Linked DNA regions of Homo sapiens: region 1 is linked to region 2. A link means that fine-mapping ties the variant in region 2 to the expression of a gene that starts in the linked region. Tissue or cell type: nucleus accumbens. Region 2 holds a variant in brackets; the other region holds the start of a gene. All regions are shown on one strand. Distances are between the middles of the regions.

Region 1 (8,101 bases), 400 kb after region 2:
ACAAGCCTGCCAGGCTGGGAGCCCGAGGCCCTCAAGCCACTCAGCATTGCTGCCTCAAGGGCCTGGGAGGGAAGGGGTGGGCCCTGGGAGGTGGGTGTGGGACTCCAGCCCCGGTGGTTCTGCCTCTGGTTTGGACTGGGCCTTGGGTGATTGAGGGTGGCCTGGCAGGAGAGAGCTGTCTGGGGGCAGAGGCCAAGGTGGGCATGTTGGTGCCAGCCCCAGACTGAGCAGACACACCTGACAGGCACAAAAACTTAGAATCAAAAGGACAAAACCCTGACTCCCAGTGAGTCTGAGGCCAAAGCTGAAAACAGAACCCAAGAAGCTTAATTCCTGACCTCAGTTCCAATCAAACAGCACGAATTGTGGTGGACCTCCAGCTGTGCTCAGATGGGGGGACACAATATTGGCAGTACCCTCTTCCTTGCCCTCCAGGCTGAGTGCCAGTGTGGGAGCGTGCTCATGAGAGCCCTGCACAAGCGGGTTTTGAGCACATGCTACGCTCTAGCCCCGTGGAAGCCTGGACTAGTTAGAGGCAGAGAACAGCTCAGGACAGACACCTCCCTGCAGAGCCAAACAGAGTGCAGCGCCTGCCTCGCTGGGCCATCCTGAGAGCTGGGGCCTTCCCAGGAAAGAGGGAGCTCGGGGGGCACCACCCCATCCTCAGCTCAAGCCCCTGGAAGAGCGGGAGAAACTAGCAGCGTGGAAGATGTTCCCAGGGAGAGATGGGGAGGGCCTGACAGGGGCTCCGTGGCCAAGGCAGAGGCAGGCCTGGTGCCCACAAGCCCTGAAGACTCCTGTGGCCCTCAGTGGCCCTCATCTGTTCTCTGCACGCCCCAACACAGGTGGACCTCCCCCACACGGCGATCCAGGAAGCCTCCAACAAGAAGAAATTCGAGGATGCCTTGAGCCTCATCCACAGCGCCTGGCAGCGGAGCGACAGTCTCTGCCGCGGCCGAGCCTCCCGAGACCCCTGGTGCTGAGGCAGAGCTGGTTGGCGTCCCTGGTGGGCAGGAAAGGAAGGCACGCCAGCCGGCAGGCACACTGTCACGGCTGTTGTCATGCTGTCGGGAGCCTACAGTCCACCCCTGCCCTGGGCGGCAGAACCACCGAGTGTGGCTTAAGACAGGGTCCCTCCACTCCAGGGATCCAGATCAGGTGCCCGGCACCCCTGGGCATCCTGCCCGACAGGTAGCGAATGGAGGTCGCTGGGGGCAGAGGGTCCGAGCCCTGTGGGCTCTGCGGATGCACGCCCTCCTCCCGGGCCTCCGCCTCAGTCTGCAGAATTTCTGCCGAGTGGCACCGAGAACACCATCCATCTAAGGACGAACAAAAGAACCAGGAGGGCGGGACCCCCCTCTTCCTCTCCTGGGTTGGGGGCTGGGGCCCTGAGTGCCCAGCCATCCTTGTTCGTGTTTGAACACTCTCCTGGCCACGTGGGGAAGCGGGAACACGGGGTGTCTGCGCATGTTTCCTCCTCCTAGCTCCATCACTGCGCACACAGCTGCCTGCCTCGCCAGATGCAGGGGGGCGGGCAGCCCTCCCTGGCTGCCAGGAGGCTCTGCATGCCCACAGTCCTGCCCTGCCTGTCCCCTCAACCCGGCAGTGCCTGTAGCACCGAGGAGCAAAGGGGGTGGATGGGGGGCTTGGAGAAGGGCGGAGCCCACCAGCCTGGCATCCATGTTGACATCTTCTGACTGTCCCCTGCTTGGCTGGAGCCAGGCCCTTCCCTAGAGTTTCGTCAAGAGCCTCCTGGGGAAGGGGTCAGGTGGTTTGGGTTTTGTTTTTTAAAATAAAATAGACATGTTATATTGCCAAGGCTTGTCACTGGCCCTTTTTGAGCAGGGTAGGGGAAGGGAGCTCTCCAAATCCCTTGGGCCCTTTTCTGCAAACCTTCCTCCATCATCTGCCCTGTGCCTGACACAAGGGACACACGGGACATGCAGAACCAGATCAGCCACCGCTGCCGGGCGGACTCACCGTCTGCAGACCCTCAGGCCCTGGGAGTTTCTCGGCCCGACCTTTGCCCTCCGTCCTGTTCCTGTTTGCTGCAGCAGCCAGGGGAGGAGCAGCCACCAGCTCAAGCCCCAGGGCACGTCTGCACCGCCGCCCACCATCTGCAGCCCACCCCGGGGCAGGACGCTCCTGCCTCCACAGCCCCGGGGGTGAGTGCCCAAACCCAGGAGAATCCAAGCTGTCCTCGCTGCCTCTTGCTGCGCCGTCCCCTCCAGGGCTGGCCAGAGGGTGACAACCCTGCCAGGCCGGGAGCCTGAGGCCCTCAAGCCACTCAGCATTGCTGCCTCAAGGGCCTGGGAGGGAAGGGGTGGGCCCTGGGAGGTGGGTGTGGGACTCCAACTTGGGTGGTTCTGCCTCTAGTTTGGACTGGGCCTTGGGTGACTGAGGGTGGCCTGGCAGGAGAGAGCTGTCTGGGGGCAGAGGCCAAGGTGGGCATGTTGGTACCGGCCCCAGCCTGAGCAGACACACCTGACAGCTGGCCCAGGTGGCGTTCTCTTCTCAGCGGGCACAAAGGGCATCCCAGGGCAGGCCTGGCAGCAAGTCCTTACCAGCCAAGGTCACTCCTCAAGTCCTACTCACCCAGGTGCCCTGAAGTCCTGGGAGCAGCGAGGGGGGCATAGGAGCCAGAGGCAGTGGGGGTGGGGGCGAGCAGGCGATGCGGGTGCCTTTATCGGGTGCAGCACTGACCTAGGCACACTCTTCTCATCGCCAGTCCTCCACAGAACCTTCTGGAGTGGATGTCAGTATCTCCATTTTACAAATGAGAGAAACTGAAGCTCTGAGAGGAAGTGACTTGCCCAGGGGTCACACATGAGAGCCACACCTGGGATTCCAATCAGCTCCCCAGGGCTCCAGAGCCCTTCTCTACTTCTGACCCTGCTGAGCATGGGCCTATAGACGGTGGGAGCCAGACTGAAGACTTGAGTCCTGGAAAGGGGAAGTCAGTCACCAGGGGCATATCAGGGGCAGGGTGGGGCAGGGGCGGAGTTGGCCGTGTACCCCATGCCAGGGACCTCCCAGTCACTTGCCCCCTGCCTAGGGCTCTGCCAAAGCTGGACAGGCTAAGCCAGAGGCAAGGCAGGGGTGCCAGCCCTTTGCCCAGGGCCAGAGGGAGGCCAGGAGGAGGTGCCTGGGCTGGTTGGCACCTTCTCCCTATCCACGCTCTCCCTCCAGTCCCAAGTGACCTTTCCCCCAGATCCCAGGGTCCAGGCCCGCCCTCGGCTGGCAGGTGTGGGCACAGAGGCAGCTGGGATTGGTCGCAGCTGGCGGAGGCGCGTCCCAGGCTCCGGCAGACCGCTGGAACAGCTGAGCAGAGCAGGTGGACTGCTGAGATAGACCAGGGACACCAGGCAGCCACAGGCCTGTCAGACCAGGACCCTTACCCTCTAGACATGGCCTCGGTCCCCTGCAAACCCCAGCCCCGTAGCCCTGCGAGGTTACAGACAGCCTAAACGCCACCACCACAGGGCCTGTGCCGTGCCCCTGACCCGGGCACAGAAGGCCACTGGCCCGGAGGCCATGGAGACGGTGCCCCCAGCAGTGGACCTGGTGCTGGGTGCTTCTGCCTGCTGCCTGGCCTGTGTCTTCACCAACCCCCTGGAGGTGGTGAAGACGCGGCTGCAGCTGCAGGGGGAGCTGCAGGCCCGGGGCACCTACCCACGGCCCTACCATGGCTTCATAGCCTCTGTCGCTGCTGTGGCCCGAGCAGACGGGCTGTGGGGCCTGCAGAAGGGGCTGGCTGCCGGCCTTCTGTACCAAGGCCTCATGAATGGCGTTCGTTTCTACTGCTACAGCCTGGCGTGCCAGGCTGGCCTCACGCAGCAACCAGGTGGCACCGTGGTTGCGGGAGCCGTGGCGGGGGCACTGGGAGCCTTCGTGGGGAGCCCTGCTTACCTGGTGAGTGGCTTGTCTCCATCGTCCACCCTCCACCATCCCATGACCCAGCTCCCACAGGGGCCCTGCAGCCTCCAAAGGCAGGGCTCAGTGGACCTGGGTGGGGTGGGGCAGCCGGGGTGGGGCTGCTCCCTGGAACATCCTAGCCCAAGCCTGGAATCTGCCCCTTGGCCCAGGGCCTTGCTCTGATCCATGCTCCCCTGCGGTCCCTGCCCCACTGGTCCTGAGCCAGGGGAGGGGGCAGAGGGTGTCAGATGTGCTGGCTCAAATCCTGGCTTGGTTACTTCTCTTCCCGCATGGCCTCATGTACGATAAGAATAAAAGCTACCCTTGAGGGCCTCCGCCTCGTGTGCACTCTGCAGGGGGGCCTCAGGGCCACCCAAAACAAATAAAAAATTAAAAAATGTTTTGAAGAAAGCTACCCTTGGCTGGGTGCAGTGGCTCACGCCTGTAATCCCAGCACTTTGGGAGGCCGAGGCGGGCAGATCACCTGAGGTCAGGAGTTTGAGACCAGCATGGTCAACATGGTGAAACCCTGTCTCTGCTAAAAAGTACAAAAATTAGCTGGGCGTGGTGATGCATGCCTGTAATCCCAGCTACCGGGGAGGCTGAGGCAGGAGAATCACTTGAGCCCAGTTGGCAGAGCTTGCAGTGAGCCAAGATCATGGCACTGTACTTCAGCCTGGGCAACACAGCAAGACTCTGCCTCAAAAAAAAAAAAAGGAAAGAAAGAAAAAAAAAGCTCCCCTTGAGCAAAGGCTCGCCTTGCCCTTGGCTGGTGCTGGAGGATCATTGTCTCACTTAATCCTCAGAACAGCTTTCCAACCGTGACAGAATTGAGGCCCAGAAAAGGTTAAGTAACTTGCTCCAAGTCACACTGAGACGCAAAACCCAGGCCAACCCCAGAGCTGCACCTCAACCCTATTTCACTTGACCCCTAAGCTTCAGGCTCGGGACCATGGAGCTGTGAGTTTCAGGGGCACGGGGGCAGGGCGCCCTCAACACACACAGCTCACCCTGGCTCTCCCAGGCTCCATCCCCACACCCGTGTCCTCTCTGCTCCCATAGATCAAAACGCAGCTGCAAGCTCAGACAGTGGCCGCAGTGGCCGTGGGACACCAGCACAATCACCAGGTGAGGCCTGCCACTCTCAGAGCTCCCTGGGGGCATGGATTGGGCATGCTCCCAGCCTAGGCAGGGGTGGCCAGTGACCCCGTGCCCTCTCCCCACAGACTGTCCTGGGTGCCTTGGAGACCATCTGGCGGCAGCAAGGGCTCTTGGGGCTGTGGCAGGGCGTTGGTGGGGCTGTGCCCCGAGTCATGGTGGGCTCAGCTGCCCAGCTGGCCACCTTCGCCTCTGCCAAGGCCTGGGTACAGAAGCAACAGGTGAGGAGCTGGGGACACCTGTGCCTATCCACAGAGACACACCGGACTGAGGGGGGCCACCTGCCTCCTTCCACACGGGGAAGACCAGGGGGTGGCAACAGATGGGGCCCTGCCTCTGCCCTCAGAGTCGTGACTCCGGCCCTTGGTACCAGCAGGAGTGTGGGGTCAGCAGTGAACCCCAAAGCTGAGAAGGAGCTCAGGGTGGCAGGGCTGGGGGATGGCTGGAGGGGCCTCATCTGCTCCCCTTTCTGTAGCCCTTTTAGCCCCTGTGTGGTAGGAGGCCGGGAGGGCACGACGTGGGTGGGTAGAGAGCTGTTGCAGGGATCAGCACCTGTGCCATCCCCACAGTGGCTCCCTGAGGACAGCTGGCTGGTGGCCCTGGCTGGGGGCATGATCAGCAGCATAGCCGTGGTTGTCGTCATGACTCCCTTCGATGTGGTCAGCACGCGGCTATACAATCAGCCGGTGGACACAGCTGGCAGGGTGAGCAGGGGCGGGTCTAGGGGAGACCGTGGGGAGCTGGGAGCACCCCCCCAACACACACACACACACACACACTCTCACACACTCACACTCACACATGCACAGCCAGAGACACGCAGACACAGGCCAGGTATGCAAACACATTAACTGGGCTTGTTTGCTGAGCCCCCGGGTCCCAGGCACAGGCTAAGCACTTTCACATCTGGATTTTATTCCATCCTTATAATCACATTCATCTTCCTGATGAGGAAGCTGAGGCTCAGACAGATCAACTGACTTGCATGAGTTCCCCCAGCTGGTAAGGGGAGGAGCCAGAACTGGAATTCAGGCCTGACCCCACAGCCTTCCCATGGCGCCGCAGCCTCACAGGTGTGTCCAATACAAAGGTGCTGTCCATAGGGTGTGTGGGGGTGAAATTGACCCGTGTGCCAAGATGTGGTGCCAGCCAGGGCCTCAAGGCCCCTGTAGTAACACTCACCCCATGTCTTTCCCCAGGGCCAGCTCTATGGGGGCCTCACCGACTGCATGGTGAAGATCTGGCGGCAGGAGGGCCCCCTGGCACTCTACAAGGGCCTGGGCCCCGCCTACCTGCGCCTGGGCCCCCACACCATCCTCAGCATGCTCTTCTGGGACGAGCTTCGGAAACTGGCTGGGCGGGCCCAGCACAAGGGCACCTAGACGACGGCCCTCACCCCCACGTCCTGACACGGCCGGCACTTGGCCGGAAGTGAGAGCCTGCTCCAGGACAACTGGCTGTCCCGGGGCGGGCCATGGGCCCAGGCCCTGCCAGAGGTCCCGGGAGAGTGTGGACAGCTCTGGTCCATCCAGCCCCTTGGCCCACCCAGGTCCAGAGCATCCACTTCAAGTTACCACCCATTCTGTCTTCCAGACAGTTCTCTTCCTTCTCTGTACTGCGTACTGGGTCACCACATCCCAGAGCCTTGCTCAGTTATAGCAACTGCTGCGGGCGTGCACATGGCATAGGCCCAGTAACTTACATACATCGGCTCACTTAGGCCTCAGACAGCAGCACGAGGCAGGCACTTTTACTTCTTTTACCATTAGAAAGCCAAGGCCTAGAGTGGTGGGCTTTGACCACAGCCACACAATTTTGAAGTGGCAGAGCCAGGACTGGAGCTTAGCCCTGCTCACCCTAGACCTATGCGCTTGACAAGTGCGTGACTGTGACAGGCCCATGGGCCCGGACTGCCCATAGGGGTCACTGTACCATGGCAAAGGCTGAGGTGCACCAGGAGGCTGTGGCGTCGTCACCTGCCTTATTTGCTGGAGAAGCTGTAGCAAAGAACCACAGACTGGGCGACTTAGACAATAGAAATGTATTTTCTCACAGTTCTGGAGGCTGGATGCTGGAGACCAAGGTGTCAGTGGGCTGGTTTCTTCTGAGGCCTCTGTCCATGGCTTGCAGATGCTGCTTTCTCTCTGTGTCTGCACATGGTGGTCCCTCGATGTGCGTCTGGGTCCTGATCTCCTCCTCTTATAAGGACACAAATCATGTTGGCTTAGGGCCCACCCTCATGACCCCACTTTAATTTTTTTTTTTTTTTTTGAGATGAAGTCTCACTCTGCCACCCAAGCTGGAGTGCAGTGGCACGATCTCGGTTCACTGCAACCTTGGCCTCCTAGGTTCAAGCAATTCTCCTGCCCCAGCCTCCTGAGTAGCTGGGATTACAGGTGTGTGCCACCACACCCGGCCAATTTTTGTATCTTTAGTAGAGATGGGGTTTTGCCATGTTGGCCAGACTGGTCTCGAACTCCTGACCTCAAGTGATCCACTGGCCTTGGCCTCCCAAAGTGCTGGGATTACAGGCATGAGCCACCTCACTTGGCCCAATTTTAACTTAATTATCTCTGTCAAGAGCCTATCTCCATATACAGTCACATCCTGAGCTACTAGGGGGTAGGACTTCAACATGCACTTCTGCAGGGGCCGCAGTTCAGCCAACATCATCTTTTTTTTTGAGATGGAGTCTCGCTTTGTTGCCCAGGCTGGAGTGCGGTGGTGCAATCTCGGCTCACCACAACCTCCACCTCCCAGGTTCAAGTGATTCTCCTGCCTCAGCCTCCCGAGTTGCTGGGACTATAGGTGTGCGCCACCATGCCCAGCTAATTTTGTATTTTTAGTAGAGACAGGCTTTCGCTGTGTTGGCCAGGCTGGTCTTGAATGCCTGACCTTGCCGCCCGCCTCGGCCTCCCAAAATGCTGGGATTACAGGCGTGAGCCACCGCGCCTGGCCTCAGCCAACATCATCTAAGGGCTCTCACGGAGGGCCTCCCAGCTGCCCGCCCTGTGGGCATTTGCACATA
Region 2 (8,101 bases):
GAAGAGGAAGATGAGGAGGAAGGATGGGGAGGAGGAGGGAAGAGGAGGAAGGAGGAGGGCGATGATGATGGTGATGATGGTGATTATGGTGACGATGATAGTCATTCATCACTGAGGACTTATATTCTAGATACGGTTCTCAGCATTTTATACACATGATCTCATTTCATCCTCACAGTAATTCTATGAGTTAATAATTTGCCCATTTTCCTCATTTTAGAAATGAGGAAACTGGCTCAAAGCTGGTTTTCTCATTACTCCACCAGGATAAGGTGATTTGAGGCACTTCATGTTACAGAGGCTGACAGGGAGTCCCCAGTCTATTCATCGCCATCCTGCACACTCCCAGGAGCTGCCTGCGTTTCTAGCTCCTAAGAGAAGGGTAGAAAGCATGGGTTGTTTAGCTCCTCCTGGGGATTTAGCACTGTGTTCGGTGTTTCACACGCATTGTGTACTTTTATCCTCCCACCTACCCAGTGAGGCAGGTATGATTACCATCTTTATTTTATTTATCTTTTTTTTTTTTTTTTTTTTTTTTTTGAGTAAAAGTCTTGCGTTGTTGCCCAGACTGGAGTGCAGTGGCATGATTTCAGCTCATTGCAATCTCCATCTCCCAGGCTCAAGCGATCCTTCCACCTCAGCCTCCCAAGTAGCTGGGACTACAGGCGTGTGCCACCACGCCACCTAATTTTTGTGTTTTTTGTAGAGACGCGGTTTCGTCATGTTGCCCAAACTGGTCTCAAATTCCTGGGCTCAATCAACCCACTCAACTCCCAAAGTGCTGGTATTACCAGCGTGAGCCACTGCGCCCAGCCTTCATTTGAAAAGTAAAGAAACTGAGACACAGTAACGTTAAAAAGTTGCCCAGAGTCACACAGCTGGTACATTAGGGTTAAGACTCAAACTGAGGTCTTTGTGACCCTAACACCTGTGTCTTCCCTATGACCCCCTGCCCCTTCACCCCCACCCCCTGCACACATACACACTTCCTCTGACAATGCAGCAATGTACCAGGCACATGCCCAGTCCCTAGAGAATGGGTGCTGTCATCGGCTCAGGCAGTGACAGAGCTAAGAGTTGTCTTTCCCTAAGCTAAACCGCATCTGATTCCTACCCTGAGCCATAACCACAGAAAGCCCCATTTGTATCACAGTGATGTTCCAAGCTGGGACTCTGGGTACCACTGCCAAGGCTTGAATTTCAGCTGTGCACCTACTAGCTGTGTGGGCAGTTACGTGACGTGGCTGCGCCTCCATTTACTTGCTCGTGAAATGGCCATCCAGTCTCCTAGCGGCATATGAGGACTGAGTGATGGGATACATGCATGGCAGTGCTGGTCACAGTTAGCTCGTAATCGGTGGGGGCTGCTGTCATCGTCAGCCTCAAATACTGGTTGACTTCATCTGACCTAAACATGGGTAGCCACCAGGCAGGTAGGCATGTGGACCGCATAGCCTGGTTTACTTGCACCCAGGTAACATCCTCTGGAGCCTCTGCCCTGTCTCCATTTAGCAGCAAATGGGGTTTCTTTAGCCCTAAGCCCTCAGTTGGGTTGAAGCCAAGAGCCCTTTCTAGAGGCCTCCTCCTTAGAATCTGACAGTGGGCCTCGGGTCCCGGCTGCCAAGTGGCCAAGCTGCAACTCAGTCCACGCCCCTCCAACCTCAAACTCCCTGCTCTTGACCACCAGGCTACCTGCCTTTTAGAACATCCTCCTAAGAGATAAAACACGCGTCACAAACTAGGATGGAAATCCTGAAACGAATCCCCCAGGGGAATCCAGGCGGGGTAAACGTCAGGGAAATGACTTGTGGTGTTGTTGGGAGATGTCACGTGCAGCCCACAAGGTGAGGCCTGCTGGGGTCCAGTGTGTTCGGAAGGGTGGAGGATTTGCTGTGTGGTTCAGCTGGGAGGATAAGAATGTTTAGGCGGCACCTTGAAAGTCAGCTGAATACTCCTCCTGCCTGGTTTCTCAGGGTTCCTCTGATAAGGGAAGGAAAGGATTTTTTACATTTTTCTCTGCAAGCTCCGTCGTTTGTGTCTATTTCTGCAAGACTTTGTTACAAATAAAAGACTCTTCTTGCATGCATGGCAAATCACTCAACTATCCAAGATACACTGTGTCTTTAACTGAAAAGAAAGCAAGTTGCAATACAATATGCTTGGTGTGCTTTTTTTTTTTTTAAATGTCAGTATCTGAGCAAAAGAACAACCTTGAGAAAAAGACATCAAACTGTTAGGAGTATTATCCCAGCAGGGTGGGATTGCACTGGACCTTGACTTCCATTCAGTTGTTCAACAACTGTTCATTGAGGGCCCCTGTGTGCCAGCCACTGTGCAGAACATGAAGACGCAGTGGCAAACACTTCCCACATTATGAATTTCTGTAACATTTGGGTTTTTATAACCAACATTTATAACTTTTGTAAACAGAAGTATAAGAAAGACTTGTTCCTTCCCCCAAAGAGCAAAATCCCCATTATGATTACAGTTAGTCATCTAATCTAGAAATAGAAATGTGATCAAATACTGGCCTCCCCTTCAGCATCCTCAGCTACCTCTCCCCTTAGTCCTCCTCAGATCCCAACCATGATTTCATCCTTCCCCTTTGATTCCTGGGTCACACGTTGCAGCCGAGCAAAATCCCAGACTCATCCCAACAGAGCCTCCACAAATCCCTGTATTCACCAGGTCCAGTGGGCCAAGCCAATGTCAGCCCGGCCATCTCACCTCCTCCGCCATCTTGGTATCCTTGCAATGCACCTCTCCAACGCACCAACCCAACCCTGTACTCTCAAGCCTCCAAACCCTTTGAAAAGAGATTGACAGATCTAGGTCTGAATTCTGATTCTAACACTTACCAGCTCTGTAGCTTAACCTTGGGGAGCTTCTGTCGTTTCACCTATAAATATGAACATACTTCCTTACCAGGTTGTTTATAATGATTAGAAAAACGTATCAAACTCTTGGCATAGCACTGGCACGCACCAGGTCTGCTATTATTATAATATTGCTGTTCTCACGCTTCTGTGCTGGAAATCCTCCGAATGGTGCATTGCCCCACACAAGAACATGTTCTCCTCACTTCCTTTTTCTCTCTTGGCCCACCTTTTATTCCTTCCCTCCATTATCCCCACTAGGTCTTCCTCCTACATGCAGCACGTACCCTGCCCTGTCTCCCCTTTCCTCTCCTTCCCAGGGACCTTGTGCACAAATTCTTCTTTCTTTGGCGTCAGCGGCCTTTCTTTTCCTCTTAGTTCCTTCCCTTTGCCATCAAAGGGGCACTTCAAGATGGCTGTACCATCCTGAAAAAAATCATTCTTCTCTGGAATCCATCGCTTCTTTCGCTCCTTTTCAATTGCTCTTACTCCTGTCTTCACCTGTGATCTTTAAGAAGCGTGTTGCACCCTCGGTCTTCATTGCCAGCTTCTTGGCCTTTCTGCCAAGTAACTGACACGGGCCCCCTGCAGCACTGACTAGGCCACCACCCTCTCGGGGACTGTGTCTCTGACCTGCCCAACGCTCTTCATTCTCTTTTTTGAAACCCTTTAGGCGCTCTGCTTCCCTCCTGATCTTTTCCATTCATTCCCAGCAGCCCCCTTCACCAACTCCTATCCCTAACGAGGGTGTTTTCTCCTGTGCAGTCAGCCCTTGGTCCACCCCATCTCCTTTCTCATGAAGAAACTCTGCACTTCCGGGCTTCCCCAGCCACTCCTATGTGTTTTCCACACGGACGCCTCTGCAGGAGGGGCTGCCAGGAAAGTGGTGCAGGGAGTCCAGCCAAGGCAGTAGGTGGGGTCCCTGGCCAGGGGCCATGGCCACCAGGAGGAAGGGGGCCTCTTTCTTCATTCACACAAGGACCCTGGATGGGCTGGGCTGGGCCGGCATTACCGATTGGCATGTCCGGCTCTCTGCTGACCCTCCCTCCCCAGAGTCCTGCCAGTGCCTCAAATTCAGCATGTCTGAAACAGCCTGGGGGCTCCTTCTCTCTCCCTGCCACACCCCACCGCAACCCCAACCTGTCTCTCTCCCGTCTGATGACGAGGCCACCATTCTACCCCTTTAAAAGGCTTTCCCTTTCTTCCCTCTCATCCTCACTTCTCCCACCCTCAGTTAGAGGATCAGCACTGAATACCTGGGCGTCTCTCGGGCCCTTAGCGGAGCTCCCTGCCTCTCACTCAGAGGAGGGGAGCTTATCACAGGCAACATCCAGGATCGTCTGG[C/T]GACATTTTTGGTTGTCAAAACTGGGGTGGGGTGAGTAGGGGTGCCCCTGGCATCCAGTGGGTAGAGACCAGGAATGCTACTAACCATCCCACAATGCCTAAGACAGCCCCAACAGCAAAGACTTGACAATATCAGCAGTGCAATACCAGCAATACGGCCCGACATAGCAGCAGTGCTCCAGCAAAGAAACCCTGCCAGCTCCAGCCTCTCGAATGCAGCCCAGCTATTTTTCTTTAAAAAAAAAAACAACGCTCTTCATCAGGCCACTTCACTGTTCTGTCAGCCGCTGGAATAGGAGTGACTCAGACCTCGAGTCACACCAATTAGTCTTGGCTCAACCACTGGCCTGCTGTGTGGCGTTGGGCAGGCCTGCGTCTCAGAACGCCACTGCCTCATCTATAAATTGGGGACCCACTGGGCACATTTCAGTCATGTTTAAATCAAGTTTCCTCTCTCAAGCCGACGGTTTCAGGAGTGTCACGGCTTGACCTCACCCTTCCATGCCTCCTCCACTGTCTGCTCCTCCCTCTCCCATCATCTACTCCAGCCCAAGTAAGCTCAGCACTTCCCGGGAGGAGCACTGCCTTTTCCAAATCCCACCCCCACCACCCCCACATCCCGGTGTGAAACTGTGGCTTCCTGTGACTATTGTAACAAATGACCACAAGAGACTGGCTTAAAACAACACATTATTCTCTTAGCATTCAGGATTAATTCAGTTTCACTGGGCTAAAGTTCCTTCCGGAGGCTCTAGAGCAGTATCCGTTTCCTGGCCTTCTTCAGCCTCTAGAGCTTCATTCCTTGCATTCCTTGGCTCATGGCCCCTTCCTCCATCTTCAAAGCCAGCGATGTGGCATCTTCCAGTCTCTGCTTCCATCACATCACCTTCCCCTCTGTCTGTGGTCAAGCCTCCGTCTGTCTCCTTATAAGAAGCCATGTGATGACATTGGGTCCACCCAGATAATCCAGGATAACACCCCATCTCGAAATCCTTAACTTAATCGTATTTGCCAAGCTCTTTTTGCCCTGTACGGTCACACCCACAGGTTCCAGGGATTCGGACCTGGAATCGTAGGGGGTCATCATTCAGCCCCGCGCACCCCTGTTCTGAAGCGCCCTCCCCCGGCTCTCTGAATTCTGCCCACCCAACAGCATCCACACCCAGTAGTTCTTCAACCAAGTGGTCTTACTCGCTCACTCCAGGTGAATGATCTCCCCCTCCTCTGACACCCTCACCCTCCCCTCTCCTTCAGCAGTCACTCACATGCCACCTGGGGTCACTGCATGTTTCCAGCAGGCATTTACACCTTGTCTTTCGGACTGAACTGTAAGCCCCTGGAGGTCTTGGCTTTAGACCATCCCCCACACTCAGCACCATGCTTCACACACAGTAGACAGTAAATAGGTGTTCTGTTGATGGGTTGTTTTCCACCTCCAAAAAGAAAGTTGGATGTGAGCTCAACCAAGGCTTATCAACTACTTTATTTTTATTTTTATTTTTTTGAGACTGAGTCTCGCTCTGTCACCTGAGCGGGAATGCAGTGGCACAATCTGGGCTCACTGCAACCTCTGCCTTCCAGTTTCAAGCGATTCTCATGCCTCAGCCTCCCAAGTAGCTGGAATTACAAACATGCGCCACCACACCCAGCTAGTTTTTGTATTTTTAGTGGAGATGGGGTTTTATCACGCTGGCCAGCCAGGCTAGTCTCGAGCTCCTGACCTCAGGTGATCTGCCCATCTCAGCCTCCCAAAGTGCTGGGGTTACAGGTGTGAACCTCCATGCCCAGCCTAAGCCACCGTGCCCGGCTGCTTATCAACTACTTTAAAACCACAGGTTGGATGGCAGCTCACGTTGTTTTGATGGGATGGCAACGTTGCTTTCATCCACCTGTCTGCAAGCTTTGGAGTTGAATTGATACTTACATTCTTCCTGCTTCTCTTTTTTTAAGGGTTCTCTTTGTATCTGATATATCTTCTGGAACATTATAAAAAACTTATGAGCCAGGCCCAGGAACTTCAGGTAATTCTTTTAATTTCTTTTTTTCCAAAGTTCATTTCGGCCCCTGGTTGGCATTTATATAGCACTGTGCATTTGAAACCTGTTTTTTCTTTATCAGCTAGTCCAGTCCACACCCTCCAATAGGTGAAATGATTTCTTCATTTGCACACAAAGAGGTACAGAAAAGGTTGGCTAAGATCTCCCAGGAGGGTAAGGACAATGACAGGGTGCTGCCCTCTGGCCTCCTGGGCCAACCACACTGTTTGTTTTCCTCTGTCAAAGGCCCAGAAGACTTAATGCCATCAGATTTTTTTTTTTTGAGTCTCGCTCTGTTGCCCAGACTGGAGTACAGTGGTGCAATCTCGGCTCATTGCAACCTCTGCCTCCCGGGTTCAAGTGATTCTCCTGCTTCAGCTTTCTGAGTAGCTGGGATTACAGGCGCCTGCCACCATGTGTTGCTAATTTTTGTATTTTTAGTAGAGACAGGGTTTCATTATGTTGGCCAGGCTGGTCTTGAACTCCTGACCTCAAGTGATCCACCCACCTCAGCTTCCCAAAGTGCTGGGATTACAGGCGTGAGCCACTGCACCAGCCTTAATGCCATCAGATTTTGAAAACTGTGTTTACTAAATCCAGTGGACAAAGTACAGCTATCTATAGCACAGGCAGCAGAATTACTAAAAGAAAAGAAATATTCTAGAGGCAAATGAGCTTTACGGGTTATATCATTCTGATAGCTATTGCCATAATAGTATTATATAATAAACAACCACAAAACTTCAGCGGCATTCAGCAATTGCTATTTACTCCTCACGTGTCTGGGGTCAGTGGCAAGGCGGCTCTGCTGACCTTGGATGGGCCCACCCACTTGTCTGGGTGTTAGCTGGCCTTTGGTTGATCTAGACTGGCCTCAGCTGGAGTGACTCAGCTCCCTGTGTCTCTCATCCCCCAGCAAGCAAGCCTAGGCTGTTCTCATGGAGACTACGAGGTATAAAAGAAAGTGGCCCAATCACATAGTGTTTTTCAACCTTCTGCTTGTGTTATGTCTGCTAAGATCCCATTGGCCAGAACAAGTCACATGGCTGAGTTCAGTGTCTGGAGGCAAAATATGGGCGGGCACTGCAAGTTACATAGCCCTAGACATGGATAGAGTGGGGTAAAGAAGGGACCACCATGCCAATCAGCCACAGAGGCTTGAGTCCAGGGATTGGCAACTTTCTCTGTAAAGGGCCAGATGGTAAATATTTTATGCTTTGCAGACCATATTCATACCTCTTCCACTCTGCTATGGTAAAATGAAAGTAGCCATAGACAATATGTAAGCAATGGACATGATAAGCATGGCACTGTTCCAATAAAACTTTATTTACGGCGGGCACGGTGGCTCATGCCTGTAATCCCAGCGCTTTGGGAGGCTGAGGCGGGTGGATCACCTGAGGTCAGGAGTTCGAGACCAGCCTGGCCAACATGGTAAAACCCCATCTCTACTAAAAATACCAAAATTAGCCAGGTGTGGTGGTGGGCACCTGTAATCTCAGCCACTCAGGAGGCTGAGGCAGGAGAATCACTTGAACCCGGGAGGCAGAGGTTGCGGGGAACCAAGATTGTGCCCCTGCACTGCAGCCTGGGCGACAGAGCAAGACACCATCTCAAAAAAAACAAAACAAAACAAAAACACCACCTTATTTACAAAAGTATGCAGTGGGCCCGATTTGGCCTGTGGGCTGTAGTTTGTCAACCCCTGGTCTAGTCCCTTCTCCTTATTTTTCAGATAAGGACAATTTCAGTGTCACACAGCTAATGGGTGAAGAATCAAGACAAATGTTCAAGCGTCCTGGCTCCTACATGACTGCTTTTTTTCCTCACACCCACCTACCACTT

The links. PIP is the estimated chance that this variant, and not a neighbour inherited with it, causes the effect.
Region 1: SLC25A34 starts here. The variant in region 2 is fine-mapped to the expression of SLC25A34 in nucleus accumbens (GTEx, PIP above 0.99).

What each region holds. Positions count from the first base shown.
Region 1 is chr1:15,732,952-15,741,052 of GRCh38, forward strand. It overlaps SLC25A34 (solute carrier family 25 member 34), which reads left to right and starts at 3,307. Exons shown (of 5, transcript NM_207348.3): 1 at 3,307-3,912; 2 at 4,978-5,043; 3 at 5,142-5,294; 4 at 5,643-5,777; 5 at 6,273-8,101. The coding sequence starts at 3,535. The coding sequence ends at 6,455. It overlaps PLEKHM2 (pleckstrin homology and RUN domain containing M2), which reads left to right. Exons shown (of 20, transcript NM_015164.4): 20 at 846-1,818. The coding sequence ends at 983. It overlaps SLC25A34-AS1 (SLC25A34 and TMEM82 antisense RNA 1), which reads right to left. Exons shown (of 2, transcript NR_149050.1): 2 at 7,100-7,271. RefSeq lists enhancers at 1,641-2,406, 2,407-3,173.
Region 2 is chr1:15,333,311-15,341,411 of GRCh38, forward strand. It overlaps FHAD1 (forkhead associated phosphopeptide binding domain 1), which reads left to right. Exons shown (of 34, transcript NM_001391957.1): 15 at 6,171-6,241. The region is part of intron 1 of FHAD1-AS1 (FHAD1 antisense RNA 1); the gene reads right to left. LOC124903851 (a long non-coding RNA gene) reads right to left here and starts at 7,616. Exons shown (of 3, transcript XR_007065480.1): 1 at 7,070-7,616; 2 at 5,486-5,653; 3 at 1,214-5,143. The variant C/T (reference allele first, on the strand shown) is at 4,221.